Homo sapiens: one gene and its partners. The protein of the gene in region 2 purifies or fractionates together with the protein of the main gene of each other region. This does not show direct contact. Each region holds a gene or a part of one and is shown on either strand. Other genes may lie near its edges.

Evidence for each region. The genes of interacting proteins can lie anywhere in the genome.
Region 1: the proteins of OXCT2 (region 2) and MCCC1 purify together in Homo sapiens (affinity purification with mass spectrometry; 3 studies listed by BioGRID and IntAct, with this or other methods). This does not show direct contact.
Region 3: the proteins of OXCT2 (region 2) and BCKDHA purify together in Homo sapiens (affinity purification with mass spectrometry; 2 studies listed by BioGRID and IntAct, with this or other methods). This does not show direct contact.

The regions. Positions count from the first base shown.
Region 1 is NC_000003.12:183,067,978-183,076,133, reverse strand, and holds part of MCCC1 (methylcrotonoyl-CoA carboxylase subunit alpha, mitochondrial isoform 1 precursor), read left to right. Parts: intron 1-3,646; coding exon 3,647-3,768; intron 3,769-4,776; coding exon 4,777-4,924; intron 4,925-5,013; coding exon 5,014-5,135; intron 5,136-8,156.
Region 2 is NC_000001.11:39,768,657-39,776,753, reverse strand, and holds OXCT2 (succinyl-CoA:3-ketoacid coenzyme A transferase 2, mitochondrial precursor), read left to right. Parts: upstream 1-5,405; 5' UTR 5,406-5,498; coding exon 5,499-7,052; 3' UTR 7,053-7,231; downstream 7,232-8,097. Other genes in the region: BMP8B (bone morphogenetic protein 8B), read left to right, coding at 1,716-1,905, 2,298-2,446. UniProt on the Homo sapiens protein: Key enzyme for ketone body catabolism. Transfers the CoA moiety from succinate to acetoacetate. Formation of the enzyme-CoA intermediate proceeds via an unstable anhydride species formed between the carboxylate groups of the enzyme and substrate.
Region 3 is NC_000019.10:41,421,181-41,426,021, forward strand, and holds the end of BCKDHA (2-oxoisovalerate dehydrogenase subunit alpha, mitochondrial isoform 1 precursor), read left to right. Parts: intron 1-983; coding exon 984-1,190; intron 1,191-1,448; coding exon 1,449-1,590; intron 1,591-1,817; coding exon 1,818-1,989; intron 1,990-3,257; coding exon 3,258-3,428; 3' UTR 3,429-3,822; downstream 3,823-4,841. Other genes in the region: B3GNT8 (UDP-GlcNAc:betaGal beta-1,3-N-acetylglucosaminyltransferase 8), read right to left, coding at 4,405-4,841. UniProt on the Homo sapiens protein: Together with BCKDHB forms the heterotetrameric E1 subunit of the mitochondrial branched-chain alpha-ketoacid dehydrogenase (BCKD) complex.

The sequences.
Region 1 (8,156 bases), on a different chromosome or scaffold from region 2:
CAATTGTAGTTGCACAATTGTATAGATTTACTAAATTCACCAAACTATAAATGCATGAATATTATGTATTATAAATCATATCTCAAAAGAAAACCCAAACCAGGGAGGACTAGGACATAGACCTGTTTCATTTGCCTAGTATAGATGTTTGACCATTTTATATAAAATACTCAAATTGTGGGAGAAAATATTTGCAAAGTTTGCATCTGACAAAAGTCTAATATCTAGCATCTATAAGGAACTTAAACAGATGTGCAAGAGAAAAACAACCCCATTAAAAAGTGGGCAAAGGACAGCCGGGCACAGTGGCTCACGTCTGTAATTCCAACACTTTGGGAGGCCGAGGCGGGCAGATCACACGGTCAGGAGATGAGACCATCCTGGCTAACATGGTGAAACCCTGTCTCTACTAAAAATACAAAAAGATTAGCAGGGCGTGGTGGCAGGCACCTGTAGTCCCAGCTACTTGGGAGGCTGAGGCAGGAGAATGGCGTGAACCTGGGAAGCAGAGGTTGCAATGAGATGAGATCATGCCACTGCACTCTAGCCTGGGTGACAGAGCAAGACTCTGTCTCAAAAAAAAAAAAAGTGGGCAAAGGACATGAACAGGCACTTCTCAAAAGAAGACATACATGTGACCAACAAACATGAAAAAAAGCTCAATATCACTGATCATTAGAGAAACGCAAATCAAAACCACAATGAGACACCATCTCACACCAGTCAGAATGGCTATTACTAAGAAGTCAAAAAAATAACAGATGTCAGGAGGTTGTGGAGAAAAGGGAACGCTTATACACTGTTGGTAGGAGTGTAAATTAGTTCAACCATTGTGGAAAGCAGCAGGGTGATTCCTCAAAGAGCTAAAAGCAAAACTGCCATTCAACCCAGCAATCCCATTACTGGTTGATACCCAGAGGAATATAAATTATTCTACCATAAAGACACATGTGCATGTATGTTCATTGCATCATTCACAATAGCAAAGTCATTGAATCAGCCTAAATGCCCATCAGTGACAGATTGGATGAAGAAAAGGTGGTACATATACACCACGGAATACTATGCAGCCATAATAAAGCATAAGATCACATCTTTTGCGGGAACATGGATGGAGCTGGAAGCTATTATCCTTAGCAAACTCCCACAGGAACAGAAAACCAAATACTGCATGTTCTCACTTAGAAGTGGGAGCTGAATGATAAGAACTTAAGAACACAAAGAAGGAAACAAAAGACACTGGGGTCTACCTGAGTGGGGAAGGTGGGAGGGAGAGGAGCAGAAAAGATAACTATTGAATACTGGGCTTAATACCTGGGTGACGAACTCTGTACAACAAACCCCTGTGACATGTATTCACCTGTGTAATCTTCACATGCACCCCAAACCTAAAATAAAAGTTAATAAAATAAAATTGAACTTTGGTTTAAAAGATATAAAACTCTAAACTGGCTGCAACATATGAGTATCCAGCATTTTATCTGTATCTGGCATTGCATTGTTTCCTGTCACTAGGATGTGGGTTTTTCTATTCGTATGAGTTTCCCAGATATGTGAAGCTTACCCCTTTAATTTTGAAATGTTCTTTGAGTGTAACTATTTTGAAACAGGATTGGCTGAACCTTTGTGTTTTTACATTGTTTTGGTCATAATTATAATACTCGCTCACATTTTAGAAGAACAAATCCCCTCAGGGCTACTGATGTTGGAGAGGGTGTGGCTTCATCACTCATTAAATCATCCAAGTCTTCTCTGCCTTTTGCCTCCTTCTGTTTCTTCCCTTTTTGCTGTCAGCGTGTTTACTTTTAGAAATCTTGCTGTCCTTCAGTTACTGAATTTCCTCTTCTGTGGGCTAAAATCCCAGTAAGTATGTTTGTTAAAATTCTGAGTACACTGGAAGTAACTAGGCTGAAGTCTGAGGGATGCCCTTTTCACTGAAAGTACACGTACAGTTGTCCCCTTTATCCACGGTTTTGCTTTGAGTGGTTTCAGTTACCTGCAGTCTACTATGGTGTGAAAATATTAAATGGAAAATTCCAGAAATCAACAATTGATAAGTTTCAAATTGCACGCCATTCTGAGTCACACAGTGAGATCTTGCACAGTCTGCTTTGTCCCTCCCAGGATGTGAATCGTCCCTTTGTCCAGTGTCTCCACGCTGTCTCCACTCCCCATCTGTTAGTCACTCAGGAGCCATCTAGGTTATCAAATTGACTGTCATGGTACCACCATGCTTGTGTTCAAGTCACCCTTATTTTATTTAAATCATGGCCCCAAAATGCAAGAGCAATGATGGTGGCAATTCACTTATGCTAAAGAGAAGCCATGAAATGCTTCTTTTAAGTGAAAAGGTGAAAATTCTCAAGGAAAGAAAAAAATATGTATGTTGAGGTTTCTTGGTTCTTGGTAAGGACCAAGTTTCTATCTGTGAAATTGTGAAGAAGGAAAAACAAATTCATGTCATTTTCCTGTTGCACCTCAAACTGCAAAACTTATGGCCACAGGGCATGGCAAGTACTTAGTTAAGATGGGAAAGGCATTACATTTGTGATTGGAAGACATGAACAGAAGCGTGGTCAAATTGGTATCAGTCCAGTTCTGTAGTATTCATAGTTTCAGGCATCCACTAGGGATCTTGGATAAGGGGACACTCCTGTAGACTTTAATACATGACTTTCATTTGCTTCTTAGCTTTTTTTCTGGAAAGATGACATTGATGACCTGAAGATAAGTGAGGTATTTATTGAGCTAGTGTTCTGTTTGGGGCTTTTGGATGCCATGATTTCAATTCTAGGCCAGTTTTACACAGAGACAGAATAGACAAATTCCCCTTACCACTCTGAAGCCCTTTACTTCTTGACATTCTACCCTAATTGCAATATTATTTTAAATTTAAGTATATAGAAACTTCTGTACCATATGATCCAGCAATTCCACTTTTGGTATACAGCTAGAAGAATTTAAAGCAGGGACTCAAAACAGATACTTGTATACCAATACTTGTTGTTCACAGCAGCAGTATTCACAATGTGTAGAAATAACACAATGTCCATCAAGAGATTAATGGATAAACAAAATGTGTACAAACTGGATATTATTCAACCTTAAAAACAAATGGAATTTTGATACATGTTACATGAATGAACCTTGAAAACATTATGCTAGGTGAAATAAGCCAAACTCAGACAAATTATTATACGCTTCCACTTACATGAGGTACTTTGGCTAGAGAAATTCATAAACAGAAAGTAAAATCCTGGTTACTAGGGACTAAGGAAAGGGAGGGAATGGAGAATTATGTTTGGAGATTAAAACATCCTGAGGATGGATGGTGATGACAGTTGCCCAACATTGTGAGTGTACTTAATGCCACTGAATTACATACTTGCAAGTAACTAAAATGGTCAGTGTTTTGCTATGTATATATTATCACAATAAAAAGAAATATAGATTCATCTGGTTTAGGTAAGCCTTCAGAGCTTTCATATGAATATTTCAGATATTTCTTTGGAAACAGAGTTTAATAGAGACCATACTATTACCAGTGTAGGGAGAGGCCTCCCAGAGGAAGACAGCTTCACCTGCATTAAGGTGTTGCCAGTTGAGCACTGATGAGTAAATTTTTTATTTTATTTCTCATTTCTAGGCTATCCATCCAGGATGCGGTTTTCTCTCAGAAAACATGGAATTTGCTGAACTTTGTAAGCAAGAAGGAATTATTTTTATAGGCCCTCCTCCATCTGCAATTAGAGACATGGGTATAAAGAGGTATGAGTTTATATCTTTTAAAATATAACTGTATGAAGGTCAGTTGAAATAGTTTGGGCCAGGCATGTGGCTATGCCTGTAATACCAGTGTTTTGGGAGACTGAGGCAGGAGGATAGCTTGAGGCCAGGAATTCAAGACCAGCCTGGGCAACTTAGTGAGACCTTGTCTCTCAAAATTCTTTTTTTTAAATCAGCCAGGCCTGGGCACAGTGGCTCACACCTGTAATCCCAGCACTTTGGGAGGCCAAGGTGGGAGGATCACTTGAGCCCAGAAGTTTAAGACCAGCCTGGGCAACACAGGGAGACCCTGTCTCTACAAAATTTTTTAAAAATTCCAGGCATGGTGGCACGTGCCTGTGGGTCCAGCATCTTGGGAGGCTGAGGTGGGAGGATTGCTTGAGCCCAGGAGATCAAGGCTGCAGTGAGCTGTGATCACACCATCATACTTCAGTCTGGGTGACAGAGTAAGACCCCATCTCAAAAAAAAAAAAAAAAATTCAGCTGGGTATGGTGACACACACCTGTAGTCCCAGCTGCTTAGGAGGCTGAGGCAGAAGGATCACTTGAGCTCAGAAGTTTAAGGCTGTAGTGAAGTATAATTGCACCACTGCACTCTGGCATGGGCAACATTGTGAGACCCTGTCTCTAAAAAAAAAAAAGAAATAGTTTGTTTTACCTATAATATTTTAATTCTACCCTTCTGTTGTCATAGGCATAAGTTATTTATCTGTGACATAGAGAAATTCTATTGAGTTACAGAAAATACTTAATGTTTCTAATCAATATATTAGTATTTTGGGATTAAAAAATAGGGTGAGATGAGCTACCACATGAAATGAGGGAAACTAACTAATAGACATATTAAATTTGTATTATTTTGTCGTCTCAGACTCGATGTTTTCTTTAAAGAGTTCCATTGTAATTTATAGACTGGGCTATATTTATGTTTGTCTTGAATGAAATAATTTGTAGAATTTGGGGCATGTTGTTTTCTTTCCCACTCTAAAGCACATCCAAATCCATAATGGCTGCTGCTGGAGTACCTGTTGTGGAGGGTTATCATGGTGAGGACCAATCAGACCAGTGCCTGAAGGAACACGCCAGGAGAATTGGCTATCCTGTCATGATTAAAGCCGTCCGGGGTGGAGGAGGAAAAGTAAGATTGTGCATGCTTGTGTTTGCCAATTCAGGCTTGTCTTCTTTGTTTTATTTATGTTGTAGTCATAATCATCTTTTCTCTCTTAGGGAATGAGGATTGTTAGATCAGAACAAGAATTTCAAGAACAGTTAGAGTCAGCACGGAGAGAAGCTAAGAAGTCTTTCAATGATGATGCTATGCTGATCGAGAAGTTTGTAGACACACCGAGGTGGGTTGGCCTTATTTTTCTGACTCAGAGTTTAAAAATTAAATTATAAAAATAATGCATGCACATTCTATAAAATATAAAACTGTAGTAGTATATAAGTATATTATTACAAGTTTCCCAGTTCTGTCCTGTGATGTAACCACTGATTGTAGGATGGTATGCATTCTTCCAGCCATTTTCTATGTGAATAGAAACCTATATACATATACATACAGCAAACAAAATACATACCTAAGAACAGTGAATAGAATTTTTTTTTTTTTTTGGACGGAGTCTCTCATTCAGTTGCCCAGGCTGGAGTGCAGTGGCACGATCTCGGCTCATTGCAACCTCTGCCTCCCGAGTTCAAGCGATTGTCCTGCCTCAGCCTCCTAAGTAGCTGGAATTACAGGTATGCCCCACCATGCCTGGCTAATTTTTGTGTTTTTAGTAGAGATGGGGTTTTCCCATGTTGGTCAGGCAGGTCTCAAACTCCTGACCTCGTGATCCACCTGCCTCAGCCTCCCAAAGTGCTGGGATTACAGGCGTGAGCCACTGTGCCCGGCCAGTGAATAGAATCTTATACACTAATATTATATCACAGACATCTTTCCATGTCAGTAATTGTAGATCAGCCTCATTCTTTTTGTTGGTGACCTAGCGGTTCTATGATCTTGATATACCATTAATTCATTCAGTATGTTTCTTGTTGATGAAATTTAGGGTTTTTTTTCAATATTAGCAAATTATTGTAATAAATTCAGCTATATTTATAGAACTCTGTCAGTTGAGATGCTCAGGAAATGGAAGTAATTTTCTAAATTGAATTACAAGTGATATGCTGTTAATAGGAGCTAACACTTACATTGCACTTACCATGTGCCAGATTTTAAATATTTTACACATGCTAAATAATCTTGCTGTCCTTCTAATTCTAATATAATTCTTACAACAACCTCATTAGGTAAGTACTGTTTTCATTTTACAGGTGAGGACACTAAGCAACAGAATGGTTGTGTTGTGTTACTTTTCTGAGGTCACTCAGCTGTTAAGTAGTAAAGCTGAGATTTGAACCCAGGCACTTTGACTCCAGAGTTCATATCTAAGCCACTGCACTAAGCTACTTCTCTGGGTACCACTATAGCAAATGCAGTGTGAATCCCTATTTTTTTTTCTGGAATTTTATTTTCATGTTTGTTGTTTAAGATGCTGATTATAAAGTTTCTCATTTCATAGATTTTTATGACAATTGTTAAATTTTATATATATATGTGTGTGACCTGTAAGTCAAGTGAAAAGAATAATTTATTTGGGAACCATGACTGGAAAGAGATTTACCTTGAAGGTAACAGACTTGAAACTTCAGGCCCTTCTTTGACATTAATCTCTTCCAAGACCCTGACCTAATTTTGTATTTGCAGTTTTGTATTCTTCTCCTTAGAGAAGACCCCCAAATTGTTTTTTGTTTCAGGCCCTATAAAACAACTGTCCTGAGCATGGCATAGTAAATGAAATTCAATTAAGGCAAAAAAAAAGGGGGGGGCATTTCTAAGGTACATTGAAGGCTTCCTTTCAAGAAAGAATAGGCTAGCCATCCAAATCAGCATGCTCTTAAGTTAGAATTGTGGAGACATCAATAGCTTATTTCAGTAACTTATTTCAGAGACATCAATAGCTTATTTGAGTTATTATGTAACTCCATGCCTGCAGCATTTTTTGAATATGTAAGTTCTTTACTTATGAAATGTTAGCCATACATTGCGTCACATTATAATTTATTCCCCCAATAGCTGGAAAGCCCCTGGGAATCAAAGACCTGGTAGTATATACATTTTTATTTTTTGTATATATTGCCTGGCATACTACTTTCCTTGTAATAGGCATCAGTAATATTTTTTGAACTATAGAAGTAATATGAATACATTACAAATTTTTGGAAAATGCAGAAGATGGAAAACAACCCATAATTGTATTCTCCTAATTATTATTAATATTCTTATATACAGTCATGTGTTGCTTAATGACAGAGATACATTCTGAGAAATGCATTGTTAGGCAATTTCATTGTTGTGCACACATCATAGAGTGTCCTTACACAAACTGAGATAGTATAGTCAACTACACACCTAAGCTATGGTATAGCCTATTGCTCCTGAGCTACAAACCTGTACAAACGTTACTGTATTGAATACTGTAGGCATTTGTAACACAATGGTAAGTATTTGTGTATCTAAACATCTCAAAACATAGGAAAGGTAATGTATTGTGCTATTATGTCACTAAATGATAGGAATTTTTCAGCTCTATCATAATCTTATGAAATCACCATCCTATATGCAGTCTGGCATTGATGGAATGTCATTGTGTGGCACATTGTGTGACTCTATTTCTATTCTGTATTTCTAGTAATAACTTCTTTTTAATTGAAAGCAAGTTTATTAAGAAAGTAAAGGAATAAAGAATGGCTACTCCATAGACAGAGCAGCCCCAAGGGCTGCTGGTTGCCATTTTTATGGTTATTTCTTGATGATATGCTAAACAAGGGGTGGAGTATTCTTGCCTCCCCTTTTTAGACCATATAGGGTAACTTCCTGACGTTGCCATGGCATTTGCAAACTGTCATGGTGCTGGTGGGAGTGTAGCAGTGAAGACGACCAGAGGTCACTGTTGTTACCATCTTGGTTTTAGTGGGATTTAGCCAACGTCTTTACTGCAACCTGTTTTATCTGCAAGGTCCGTATGACCTGTATCTTTTGCTGACCTTCTATCTCTTCTTGTGATTAAAAATGCCTTAACTTGCTACTGGGAATGCAGCCCAGCAGGTCTTAGCCTTATTTTACCCAGCTCCTATTCAAGATGGGAGTTGCTCTGGTTCAAATGCCTCTGACATTTCCCTTTTCCCTTTTGTAAGAGCACGCTTAATCCTAAGGGTTGCAGAGGGACAAAGATCCATCTTCTGTAACTTCTTCAGGCTGAATGGGGTGATGATATTCCTGCCTAACTATTAGGATCTCTTGTGTTCAGTATAGAGAGAGGAGCTTA
Region 2 (8,097 bases):
AATACATTTATTTAGAAAAACTTAATTCAAAGTATTATTTCTGACCAAAAAGTAAGACTTCAAAAGACACCCTTGGGTGCTGTGGGACAAGGCACGTTCTTTCCTTCTCCGCCCTGGGCTGGGATGAGCGGCCACCTCCTCCTGCCCACACACGTCTGGCCCCATCCCCTGCCCCGCACAGCTGTTCGCCTGCCCATGGCCGGACCAGGTCCCCACCACGAGGACAGGAAGTGCTCCCCACATCCGCCTCGGCCCGCACAGCCTGGTGCTTTTACAAACCTGACCGTGGTCACTGAGCCCAGTAACCACAGAGAATTTTTAAAAAGACTCACAAACATATCATTGAAATCTCAGTGCTGGGTTTTGGGGAAGGCACTGGGCGGCTCCCACCCCTGCTTTCTGGAAACACAGATTTCTAGAGTTTGAAACGGATGGGAGGCTAAAGTGAGACTGCCCTAAATATAGCGTCCTGGGTATTTCCGGACACCTGGGGAAATGTGGGCTTTATTCCGCAACTACAGCCTTTGTTTGATTGGCAGGCCAGCCCCTGCCACGGGGCCCTGCTGCCCATCTCACTTCCAGCCTGGCCTCTACCCTCACCTCCACTGTGTCTTCTAATTCCCCTCCACCCACGCCGCCTCCCTGCTGCCCCCGTCCCCTGTGCTTCCCACTGGCCAGAGGCGCAGCCCAGGCTCCTGGCCCGGGATTCGCACCCTCAGCAGGCAGGCCGCAGCAGAGCTCATGTGCCGTCCCCAACATCGCTGACCTGTGGGCGCCTCCACCCTGTGCATGCGAGGTCCCCTCTCCCTAGAGCACCCTCCCTGCCACCTTCTCCACCTACCAAGACCCATCCCACCCTTCAAAGCCAGTTCAGATGCCACCTGCTCAGATCCCATCACCCAGTGAGACCCTCCGACTTCCCCAGCACCTGACTGGCCTCTCTGGGAGTTGTCACTCCTGCCCTGGTTTTTCTTGTTCCTTTCCACGTTTCCCTCCTTCCTCTTCCAGCTTGTTCCAGAAAGGAAACGTGGGTCTCCTGCCCTCTGCTGTTTCCTGGTGCTTGCTTTCCCTGCCCTGCCCTCAGACCCCTCTGCTCTGGCCCTCTGCCTTGGCTGGCCGGCCCCTGCAGGGCCCGTCTCCCTGACACCATGGCAGATTCGCACTCATGCCTCAGCCCAGCTCAGCTGTCAGCCCTGAGCCCTCCCCTGCCGCACCTCCCATCCAGGCAGTGGGCAGGCTCTGGATGCCTTGTGTCCCCTGAGATGCCGTCAGTTATGTCGGTTATGTTCCTGTCTACCAGGTTTCCCTGCAGGGCTGGGGCCCTTTTCTGCCTTGGGTCCAATGTCCATCTTCCCTTTAGCCTGGAAGTTCCCAGAGGAGGCTCCCTCCTCTGTCTCATCTCTGAGTCCCAGGACCAGCCGGGCCGAGAAGGGGGCGCAACGGGAGTTCAGGGTTTGGAGCCTGGGGCCTGCTGAGCACCAGCCAGCTGCGGGGCTCAGGGTGAGCCTGGCTGCAGGGCCTCTTGGCCCTGTCTACACCCCGGGACCAAGCCTGGAACAAACGTTTGCACTAAATGAAGCCGGCCCCACCCAGGCCTCCCTGGGTCCGCTCCACCTTGAGTGGTGGGTGGCTGGGGGCGGTGGCTCACACCAGCTCTGCCCCCTCCAGAGCCCGAGCCATTCTGAGTGCCAGCCCAGCGCTGCTTTGTCTTCTAGTGGAGCGAGACCGTGCCCTGGGCCACCAGGAGCCCCATTGGAAGGAGTTCCGCTTTGACCTGACCCAGATCCCGGCTGGGGAGGCGGTCACAGCTGCGGAGTTCCGGATTTACAAGGTGCCCAGCATCCACCTGCTCAACAGGACCCTCCACGTCAGCATGTTCCAGGTGGTCCAGGAGCAGTCCAACAGGTGCCTTCCCCTTGGCCCGGGTGCCCCACCTAACCCCCCACCTCACAGTCTCATGGTCAAGGCAGCCCAGCAGGGAGTCGTGGTGGGCTGAAAGAGAGCCTCAAAGATGGGAAGGATGCTTGGCCCGAGGCCCCTGCACTGTGGGAAGAGCCCCAGTGACAATCCTGACTTCAAGTCCCTGCCCTGCCATCCTGGCTGTGGGGACTTGGACAGGTCACTGAGACTCAGTTTCCCCATGTGTACACCTCTGTGGGCTGAGGCAATGAGATGAGGCTCAGAAGGGGCGCAGCCAGAGTCAGGTGGGAGACACTCCGGTGACAGCCCCCAGCGGGCCCTGGAGACACGGAGGCAGCTGTGCCGGCCGCCGGTTAATTGTTCTTTCATGTCCACAGGGAGTCTGACTTGTTCTTTTTGGATCTTCAGACGCTCCGAGCTGGAGACGAGGGCTGGCTGGTGCTGGATGTCACAGCAGCCAGTGACTGCTGGTTGCTGAAGCGTCACAAGGACCTGGGACTCCGCCTCTATGTGGAGACTGAGGACGGTGAGGCTGGGGGCTCTGCAGCCCCTGGGGCTTCTCTGTGCCAGCACAGGCAGCGGTAGTGGCTTCCTGTGGCCCTGGGTGCCCGGCCTCACCAGCTGTGCCCGCTGCAAGGGTCACTGAGGTCCAGGGCACGAGGTCTGGCCTAGTGGGGGTGCTCCCTCCTCTCCCTCTGCTTCCCAGGAAGCAGGCGGCTCTTCCCACGGAGCAGCCTCCACCTTGGGAGTTTCTGTCCTGGGAAGGGAAGGAGGGGAAGTGGCTGTACCCTCAGGCACTGAGGCCAGGAGGCTGGGTTTGAAGCCCAGCTTGGCAGTGCCCTGCCTCAGTGACCTTGGCTGGGACTTACCTTTCCAGACCCCGTCTTCTCTTCCGCAGGATGGGGATTCACGCCCTTGTTCATTCCACAGGTGACACTGGGGAGAGCCTCTTTTATGCCAGGCAGTAGGAATACAGAGGCCAAAGTGGGCACGAGATGGGTGTGTTTGAGGCCCGGCAAGGGGGCGCCATGGAGCAGCGGTGAGGGCGGGGGACCCAGGGGCCATTCTGAGTCAGAGTAAACCAGGGCCAGGTGCTGGGGTTCTTAGCGTCATTTATTTTATTTACTAGCAGTGGAGGACGACAGGATCTGATTCAGGTTTTAAAAGAGAACCCTCTGAGATGCCCCCCTCTCGGGGTGGAGCAGAGCTCCCCACCCCTTCCGTGGGCTGCACCCAGTGACTTGCTTCCCGAAAGTGCGGTGTGGACAGGGCGTGGGGGACCTGACGCGCAGCGCCTCAGCCAGGTGAGGAAGGCTCACTGCAGTGACCGGCACGGTGCTAGCATGTGCCCTGGGTGAAAGGGAAGGAGAAGGCCACTGAGCCTCAGAGGGCCCCCTCCGTGAACCCAAAACCCCAGTCCAGCCACGAGAAAACCGTCAAACAAACCCAAAGAGAAGGGCTTTCCGCAGAATACCTGACAAGCGCTTCTCAAAACCGCCAAGCTCATCAAAAAAAAGGGAAGGTTGGGAAATTGGAGGAGCCCAGAGGCACCTAAGAAGACCAGCTCAGTGCATGTGGGGTCCTGGGTTGAGTCCTGGACCAGCAAAAGGTCATTAGGGAGAAGTTATGAAATCCAGATCGATCATGGTGTTTACTTAATAATAAGGTATCAGTATTGGTTCATTAGTTATGAGAAAGGTACCCTGCTAGTGTAAAATATTAGCATTTCCCAGAGGAAACTGGGTCCAGGTGTATGGGAACTCCTTGTGTAGTTTTTTTTTCTTTGAGACAGGGTTTGGCTCTGTTGCTCAGGCTGGAGTGCAGTGGCGCAATCACAGCTGACGGTAACCTCCAACTCCTGGGCGCGAGCGATCCTCCCACCTTAGCCTCTGTACTATCTTTACAAAGTTTTATGTAACTATCAACTGTTGTAAAATTAAAACTTAATATATGCATAAAATAAAGAACCCCCTGACTTCAGTGGAGAGAGCAGACTGAGATGGACAAGAGTGAAGTCAGAGAGACGTGTGGGGGCCCCACAGTGGTCCAGGTGGGCGCTGTGAGCGACTTGTTGGTAGCAGTGGAGATGGAGAAAGATGAGTCGATTTCAGTGTCAGGACATGCTTATAGCTGGCGAGGAGGTGAGGGAACAGGAGGAAGCCTGAATGATGTGTGGTTGGAGCCAGTGGATTTTTTTCAATAGATTTTTCTTTTTGGGGAAAAGATAGATGAAGGGCAGGTTTGAGGTGGGTGGCCAAGGGTTCTCTTTTGGCTGGAATATTACTGACCCCCCTGGGATGTTACTGAGATCACTGGTCCTCATGGAAATGCCATTACAGGGACCGGTGAGTGTGAAGACCCAGGCGAGGGAGGTGCTGGCATGTAAGTGGATTTAAAGCATGGGATGGGACCAGGTCATCTAGGGAAGGAGGGTAGTGATGGAGAAGAAAGAGGGCCTGGCCCAGAGCCCTGGGACCTCCAACATCCAGAGACCTCACAAGGAGGGGCCACAGAGAGCCCACAGAGACCAGCCAGGGAGGGAGCAGGACACCTGGAGGATGAGGTGATCTAGACGCCAGAGTAAAGTGTTTCCAGAAGCAAGGGTTTGTCATTTGTGTCCTGCTGTGGGCACTGAAGGCAAGAACAGAGAAGTGACCAAGGGTTTTGCCATCACAGAGGTTGTTGATGACCTAAATATCCGTGGAGTGTGGGTCTGACTGAGGAGGTGGAGGGAGACAGGCAGTGGAGGCAGGAGACAGCTCTTTCCAGAACCTTTGCTGGGGAAGGGGAGCAGAGACATGGGCTGGGGCTGGAGAGAACCCGGGACAAGGCAGGTCCTTTCCAGGTGAGGAGACGCCTGCACGCTGCTGTGGTGATGCAGTGATTCTGTGCAGAGGGAAGAAAACTGCAAAATTCCGCACAAGTTGGAGCAGGGAGCTGGAGTGGGGGAGGTGGAGAGGGCGGGGGGATGCAGAGGACAAGACGGGGGGCCTCTTCAGAGCAGGGACCCTTCCTGATGGAGGTGAGGGATACTGTCCCCACTGTCGCAGTGAGGGGTGAACCTGAGCTCTGGGAGGCTGTAGTGGGGCAGGCACTCACTCTCCGGGTTGTCACAGGATTAAAGGAGGGTGCTTGGCACAGAGTGATGCCCAGTGAAGGTGTTCATGAGCGTCGGTGTCACCCAGCGGCGCCTGCTCATTGGACACTTGGTGTCTTTAATGAGCTGGGGAAGCTGGGGGGAAGCTTGGGCGGGGTGGTTGGAGTTTGTGTCTGAGGCTCCACTGGGGCAGGAGGGGACCTAGCCTGTGCCCTTCTCGCGGAGCCTGACCTCAGCTCTGTCCTGCGCCCGGGCCTGTGCGCTGGACACGGAGGACTGACTCGGGGGCCCCCAGCCCAGGGCGGAGCCGGCCCCCTCCCTGTTGCGGGTCGCGGGCCTAGCCTAGAGCCTGCGCCTGGCCGGGGAGACCTGCTGGGAGGGAGTGCGTCAGGGCGCGGGCGCCCGCCCTGCTCTGTGACGCGCGGCCCGAGGCGCACGCAGGGCTCACACCACCTGTCCTGGCCTCCGACCCGGGCCGACTATGGCGGCGCTGCGGCTCCTGGCGTCAGTGCTCGGGCGCGGGGTCCCCGCCGGCGGCTCAGGGCTCGCGCTGTCCCAGGGCTGCGCCCGCTGCTTTGCCACCAGTCCCCGGCTCCGTGCCAAGTTCTACGCGGACCCGGTGGAGATGGTGAAGGACATCTCTGACGGGGCGACCGTCATGATCGGGGGCTTCGGGCTCTGCGGGATCCCCGAGAACCTGATCGCCGCGCTGCTCAGGACCCGCGTGAAAGACCTGCAGGTGGTCAGCAGCAACGTGGGCGTGGAGGACTTCGGCCTGGGCCTCCTGCTGGCCGCCAGGCAGGTCCGTCGCATCGTCTGTTCCTACGTGGGCGAGAACACCCTGTGCGAGAGCCAGTACCTGGCAGGAGAGCTGGAGCTGGAGCTCACGCCCCAGGGCACCCTGGCCGAGCGCATCCGCGCGGGGGGCGCCGGGGTGCCCGCCTTCTACACCCCCACGGGCTACGGGACCCTGGTCCAGGAAGGGGGCGCCCCCATCCGCTACACCCCGGACGGCCACCTGGCGCTCATGAGCCAGCCCCGAGAGGTGAGGGAGTTCAACGGCGACCACTTCCTTTTGGAGCGCGCCATCCGGGCAGACTTCGCCCTGGTGAAAGGGTGGAAGGCCGACCGGGCAGGAAACGTGGTCTTCAGGAGAAGCGCCCGCAATTTCAACGTGCCCATGTGCAAAGCTGCAGACGTCACGGCGGTGGAGGTGGAAGAGATCGTGGAGGTGGGGGCTTTCCCCCCAGAAGACATCCACGTTCCTAACATTTATGTAGATCGCGTGATAAAGGGGCAGAAATACGAGAAACGAATTGAGCGCTTAACGATCCTGAAAGAGGAAGATGGAGACGCTGGAAAGGAAGAGGACGCCAGGACGCGCATCATCAGACGCGCAGCTCTGGAATTTGAGGACGGCATGTACGCCAATCTGGGCATAGGCATCCCCCTGCTGGCCAGCAACTTCATCAGTCCCAGCATGACTGTCCATCTTCACAGTGAGAACGGGATCCTGGGCCTGGGCCCGTTTCCCACGGAAGATGAGGTGGATGCCGACCTCATCAATGCAGGCAAGCAGACGGTCACGGTGCTTCCCGGGGGCTGCTTCTTCGCCAGCGACGACTCCTTCGCCATGATCCGAGGGGGACACATCCAACTAACCATGCTTGGAGCCATGCAGGTTTCCAAATACGGCGACCTGGCGAACTGGATGATCCCTGGCAAGAAGGTGAAAGGCATGGGCGGTGCCATGGACTTGGTGTCCAGTCAGAAGACCAGAGTGGTGGTCACCATGCAGCACTGCACAAAGGACAACACCCCCAAGATCATGGAGAAATGCACCATGCCGCTGACCGGGAAGCGGTGCGTGGACCGCATCATCACCGAGAAGGCCGTGTTTGACGTGCACAGGAAGAAAGAGCTGACGCTGAGGGAGCTCTGGGAGGGCCTGACGGTGGACGACATCAAAAAGAGCACGGGGTGTGCCTTTGCTGTGTCCCCGAACCTCAGGCCCATGCAGCAGGTGGCACCCTGACGGGACCTGGATCTGGGCGGGGTGGTGCGCTCCTCAGGGCGGGTGCCACCGGGTTCCCCAGGGGAATACATGTCCCCAGCTCTGGGAGGGGTTTGCTACTGGCCTCCTACTTTCCTCCCTAGGTGGACAGTGCTCCTCTAGAGAGCTGCGACTTTAATTAAAAACAACAGGAAAACAGATCAGTTCCTCACTGTGTTTCTCGAGCACTGCAAGGCGCAGGTCTGCAGTGGTGAGGAATGGATGTCCGCTTTGCTCTGTGATGTTTACACAGAGCGTGCACAGCTCAGTGCATTCACAGCAAGATTTGATTCAAGCGCCTCCCTCGTACTTGAACCATGAAATGGAGATAAAAACTGACGAGGGAGAAAATCACTCAACCCAGAGTACACCTGAAGGGACATTTTACTACTGCAGTGAGAAATAGGCGAGCAAAGATGTGAGTTTGTGATTGGAAGACATGCTATCTTCACGAGCTTGTTTTTTCTTTTTCCTTCTCTTTCTTTTTTCTTTTTTTTGAGGCAGGGTCTGGCTCTGTCGCTCAGGCTGGAATGCAATGGAATGCAGTGATCTCACTGCAACCTCTGCCTCCTGGGCTCAAGCAATCCTAATTCAGCCTCCTGAGTAGCTGGGACTACAGGCGCACATCACAATGCCTGCTTATTTTTTTTTATTTTTTAAATTTATTTATAGAAATGGAGTTTCACCATGTTGCCCAGGCTGGTCTTGGACACTTGAGCTCAAGCGATCCACTTGCCTCAGCCTCCCAAAGTGCTGGGATTACAGACATGAGCCACTGAGTTGGGCCAATTAACCTTAGCTTACTGTAATTTTTTTTCTTTTTTAGACAGAATCTCGCTCTGTTACCTAGGCTAGAGTACAGTGGTCCAGTCTCAGCTCACTGCAACCCCTGCTTCCTGGGTTCAAGCAATTCTCATGTCTCAGCCTCTCAAGTAGCTGGGATTACAGGCATGTGCCACCATGCCTAGCTAATTTTTGTATATATATTTTTAACAGTAGAGATAGGGTTTCTCCATATTGGCCAGGC
Region 3 (4,841 bases), on a different chromosome or scaffold from region 2:
CTGGGTCCCTGCTAAGTCACTTCAAATACACGAAGTTCCTGCCATGTGCCGGTGCCACTCCAAGTGCAGGGAACAAAAGCAACGCAAACCTCAGCCCTCCTGGTGCTGCCATTGTGGTGGGGGAGACGGACAGTAACAGAGATGGAGAGGGAACTCCTGGAGTATATGAGGGTGGGGGTCCTGTAGGGAGCAGCCAAGCCAGCCGGGTGTGGTGCACTGTAGGGGTGGCTGGGGTCCGTCACTGGAGTGACACTGAAGTATGGACCAGAGGATGTGAGGGGGGAGCTGTGTGGTGTCTTGAGGCAGGTGTGAGCCTGGCGTGTTTGAGGAGCTGGGAGGAGCCCAGAGGGGCAGGTGTGGAGTGAGCAGGTGTGGAGTGAGCGGGTGTAGGGTGAGCAGGTGTGGGGTGGTTGGAGGTAAAGTCCAGGAGGTGGTGGGTGGGGGTGCAGATGGTGCAGGTTGGGTGGGGCCTCAAGGCCTTTGCCTGTTGCAGGGATGTCGACTTTTACTCAAAGTGGGACAGGAGCCGTGGGTGGGGAGGAGTCTGCTCTTCCTTGGCCTGGCTCACCTCTTCATGGAATCCGCGGGCTGCCCTGTGGATAAGGGATTGGGCAGTGTGTGAAGGGCTAGTAAGGAGGCTGCTCAGTAACTTGGGCTTGACCAGGGTGGTGCAGAGGAGGAGGTAAGAGGGGTTAGGTTCTGAAGGTGGAGTAGATGTGGAGAATGGCGGGAAGTTTGGCTTGGAGATGATACTGGACTCTTCAGCCTGAGCAGTTGGAAGGGTGGAGTTGCTTTCAGCTGAGCAAGAGGAGACCTGGGTGGGCAGATGCTGGGGGGCATCAGGAGCTGAGGTGTTTCCTTTCCCCTTGAAGCCTGGTGACTGCTGGCCTGAGCCACGCTTGAGCCGTGGGTCATGTGAGTGTGAATGAGTGTGAGTGCATGTGAGTCTCCGCCCCTGCTCACCACCCTCTCATCCCCTGCAGCGGTGGGGGCGGCGTACGCAGCCAAGCGGGCCAATGCCAACAGGGTCGTCATCTGTTACTTCGGCGAGGGGGCAGCCAGTGAGGGGGACGCCCATGCCGGCTTCAACTTCGCTGCCACACTTGAGTGCCCCATCATCTTCTTCTGCCGGAACAATGGCTACGCCATCTCCACGCCCACCTCTGAGCAGTATCGCGGCGATGGCATTGGTATGGGCTCTGCTGGCTGCTCCCCACCCCGCTGGGATCATCTCCTTCCCTCCCCAATCCTGCCACCTTCCTGCCACCCCTACCCTCCTTCCTGGTTCTCGTCCTGTGTCCTGTGGCGTCTGGCACTTGGTCAGCCACAGGAGTTGAGGTCCTGAGCACTCAGCCTTGCTCTCTGTCCTCTCCCTGCTCGTCCCCTTGGCCTCGTGCATGTTCCTTATCTCAGCCCTGGCCTGACCTGCCTTCTCTGTGTCCCCACAGCAGCACGAGGCCCCGGGTATGGCATCATGTCAATCCGCGTGGATGGTAATGATGTGTTTGCCGTATACAACGCCACAAAGGAGGCCCGACGGCGGGCTGTGGCAGAGAACCAGCCCTTCCTCATCGAGGCCATGACCTACAGGTGCCTGCCGCTCCCCCCGTCAGCACCCCCACAGCACTGACAGCCACCGTAGCATCTTCCTCATATCGATCACTGTCTCCAAAACATGGCCTTATCACCTGATGTTGCATCTCCCCCTTGCCTTTATTCCGTTTCCACTCCTCCTTCCCTAGTTCATCCCCCATCCTCCCTCCTGACCCCCACTCCAGGGAGCCCACACTGACCTGGGGCCCCTTGCCCCTGTGCAGGATCGGGCACCACAGCACCAGTGACGACAGTTCAGCGTACCGCTCGGTGGATGAGGTCAATTACTGGGATAAACAGGACCACCCCATCTCCCGGCTGCGGCACTATCTGCTGAGCCAAGGCTGGTGGGATGAGGAGCAGGAGAAGGCCTGGAGGAAGCAGTCCCGCAGGAAGGTGAGGGTGCCCCGCCCGGGAGGGTGTGCTGGGGGCTGCTGCGGCCTGCAGAGCTTGGGAAGGATTTGTGGAACACCGAACTGGGAGGCTCAGGGATAACCCCAGTGATGTCTCAGATGTGGCCTGTGGAGCCAGGCTGCTGGGGCCATGTGTGTCCTGGCTCTGTGTCCTTGGCATGTTGCCCTCCACTTCCTTGTCTTTGAAAGGGGATGCTGGTGGTGCCCATTTCAGAAACTGGTTTGAGACTGGGCATGGTGGCTCACACCTGTAATCCCAGCACTTTGGGAGGCCGAGGTGGCAGATCACTTGAGGTCAGGAGCTTGAGAACAGCCTGGCCAAACATGGTCAAGCCCTGTCTCTACTAAAAATACAAAAATTAGGGCTGGGCGCAGTGGCTCACGCCTGTAATCCCAGCACTTTGGGAGGCCAAGGCGGACAGATCACCTGAGGTCGGGAGTTTGAGACCAGCCTGGCCAACATGGTGAAACCTCGTCTCTAATAAAAATACAAAAATTAGCCGGGCATGGTGCCGGGTGCCTGTAATCCCAGCTACTTGGGAGGCCGAGGCAGGAGAATTGCTTGAACCTGGGAGGTAGAGGTTGCAGTGAGCTGAGATCGTACCATTGCACTCCAGCCTGGGCAACGAGAGCAAGACTCCATCTCAAAAAAAAAAATTAGCCAGGCGTGGTGGTGCGTGCCTGTAGTCCCAGCTACTCAGGAAGGTGAGGCAGAAGAATCGCTTGAACCCGGGAGGTGGAACTTGCAGTGATTGGAGATGGCGCCACTGCACTCCAGCCTGGGCAACAGAGCAAGACTATCTCTTAAAAAAAAAAAAAAGCTGGTTTGAGGATTAGGTGGCAAACCGTGGTGGAGTGTACATGCCCTGCCCAGAGTCAGTGTGCCACCCTCCCTGGCCCGGTCATTAGGACCCAGGGCCCGTGCAGCCCAGTGGTGAGGGCAGCACCCGGCATAGGGCAGCACCGTGTGTCCTGTCCCTGCCCTTCTCTGTGCCTCAGTTTCCTCATTGCTTAGCTGTCTACCTCTTAGGGCTGCTGAAAGCCTTAAATGATTCCACACACTTGGATAGCACCTGATCCCTGCTGGGATTTGAGGGTTTTCATTACACTTCTGCTAGGATAATCATTTCCATTGTCGAGGTGGGAACACAAAGGCTTGGAGTGGTTAATTCCTTGCCAAGGCCCCGCAGGAGGAAGCAGGGTCCTGCATGGGAGGCCGGCTAGCCTGCCCACTGCCCCATGTCCCCACAGGTGATGGAGGCCTTTGAGCAGGCCGAGCGGAAGCCCAAACCCAACCCCAACCTACTCTTCTCAGACGTGTATCAGGAGATGCCCGCCCAGCTCCGCAAGCAGCAGGAGTCTCTGGCCCGCCACCTGCAGACCTACGGGGAGCACTACCCACTGGATCACTTCGATAAGTGAGACCTGCTCAGCCCACCCCCACCCATCCTCAGCTACCCCGAGAGGTAGCCCCACTCTAAGGGGAGCAGGGGGACCTGACAGCACACCACTGTCTTCCCCAGTCAGCTCCCTCTAAAATACTCAGCGGCCAGGGCGGCTGCCACTCTTCACCCCTGCTCCTCCCGGCTGTTACATTGTCAGGGGACAGCATCTGCAGCAGTTGCTGAGGCTCCGTCAGCCCCCTCTTCACCTGTTGTTACAGTGCCTTCTCCCAGGGGCTGGGTGAGGGCACATTCAGGACTAGAAGCCCCTCTGGGCATGGGGTGGACATGGCAGGTCAGCCTGTGGAACTTGCGCAGGTGCGAGTGGCCAGCAGAGGTCACGAATAAACTGCATCTCTGCGCCTGGCTCTCTACCACCTCTGGTCTTTGTTTCCTGGAGTTTGGGGGTGATTTGAGGCCACCCCCAGCTTCTCCACCTTAGATAAATAAGGTCAAGGCTCTTGAGATACCTACTTCCCCCGGAAGCTTGCGCAAGCTGGAAGGTTAACTTCAGCAGACAGGATGGGGGTGGGGGGGTCCTCCAGAGATGGTCTCCTGCTCTCTCACAGAATGGGAGAAGCCTGCTGTCCAGCAGAGTGATGGGGAGCCCAGTGGAGCTAGCCCTGCCCAGCAGGGGTGCAGGGGAGCGTCCAGGATGAAGGTCAGGGTGTGGCCAAGCCCTGCTCCCCACCACTCCAGGGCCCCACAGATGCAAAAACAACCCCAGGCCTCAGAGTGGGGAGTGCATGTTTTTCAAAAACAAAAAGTAGGCAAAAACAGTCCACCACCCCATCTTTCCTGCCCAGGCCCCTGGCTGGGGGAGGCCAAGGAGTGGCTTAAGTTGTCCAGCTTCTGGGCCCTCCTCCCTCCCATCAAGACCTGGAAGGAGGGGCTGAGCCAGGGGCCGGCCCCAGAGGCCCAGGCCAGGTCAGCACCTCCGCCCTCCCCAATGAGAGTCAGCACTGGAGCCTTGGGTCTTGCAGTTGTTTCCAGAGCCGAATGCTGGCCTGGGGGCCCAGGGGCCGTACCAGCAGCAGGTTGCGGAAAGCACAGTGGTCCGCAGTGCGGTCTGCTGGCCAGGCTGTGAGGAAGCCTGGGTGGGCCTGGGGCACCAGGCCCAGGGCTCGGATGCAAAGGCCAGTGTAGACGTCCTCAAAGGGGAAGGGTGCCACACGGGCTGCCGCCCGCAGCAGCCAGGGTGCCAGGCGCCCGGCAATGACGTAGCCACCCCCGCTTGCATAGGCTGGGTAGCCACCTTCGAAGAAGGACTCGGGCACATAGAAGGGTCCTCCTGGCTTCCGGAGAGGCATGGCCTGGGTAAAGACCTCACCCAGGTAGAGGCTTCGGGCCGAGGCAGGTGGCAGGGCCCGCAGGTGAGCCAGCAGGGCAGGGG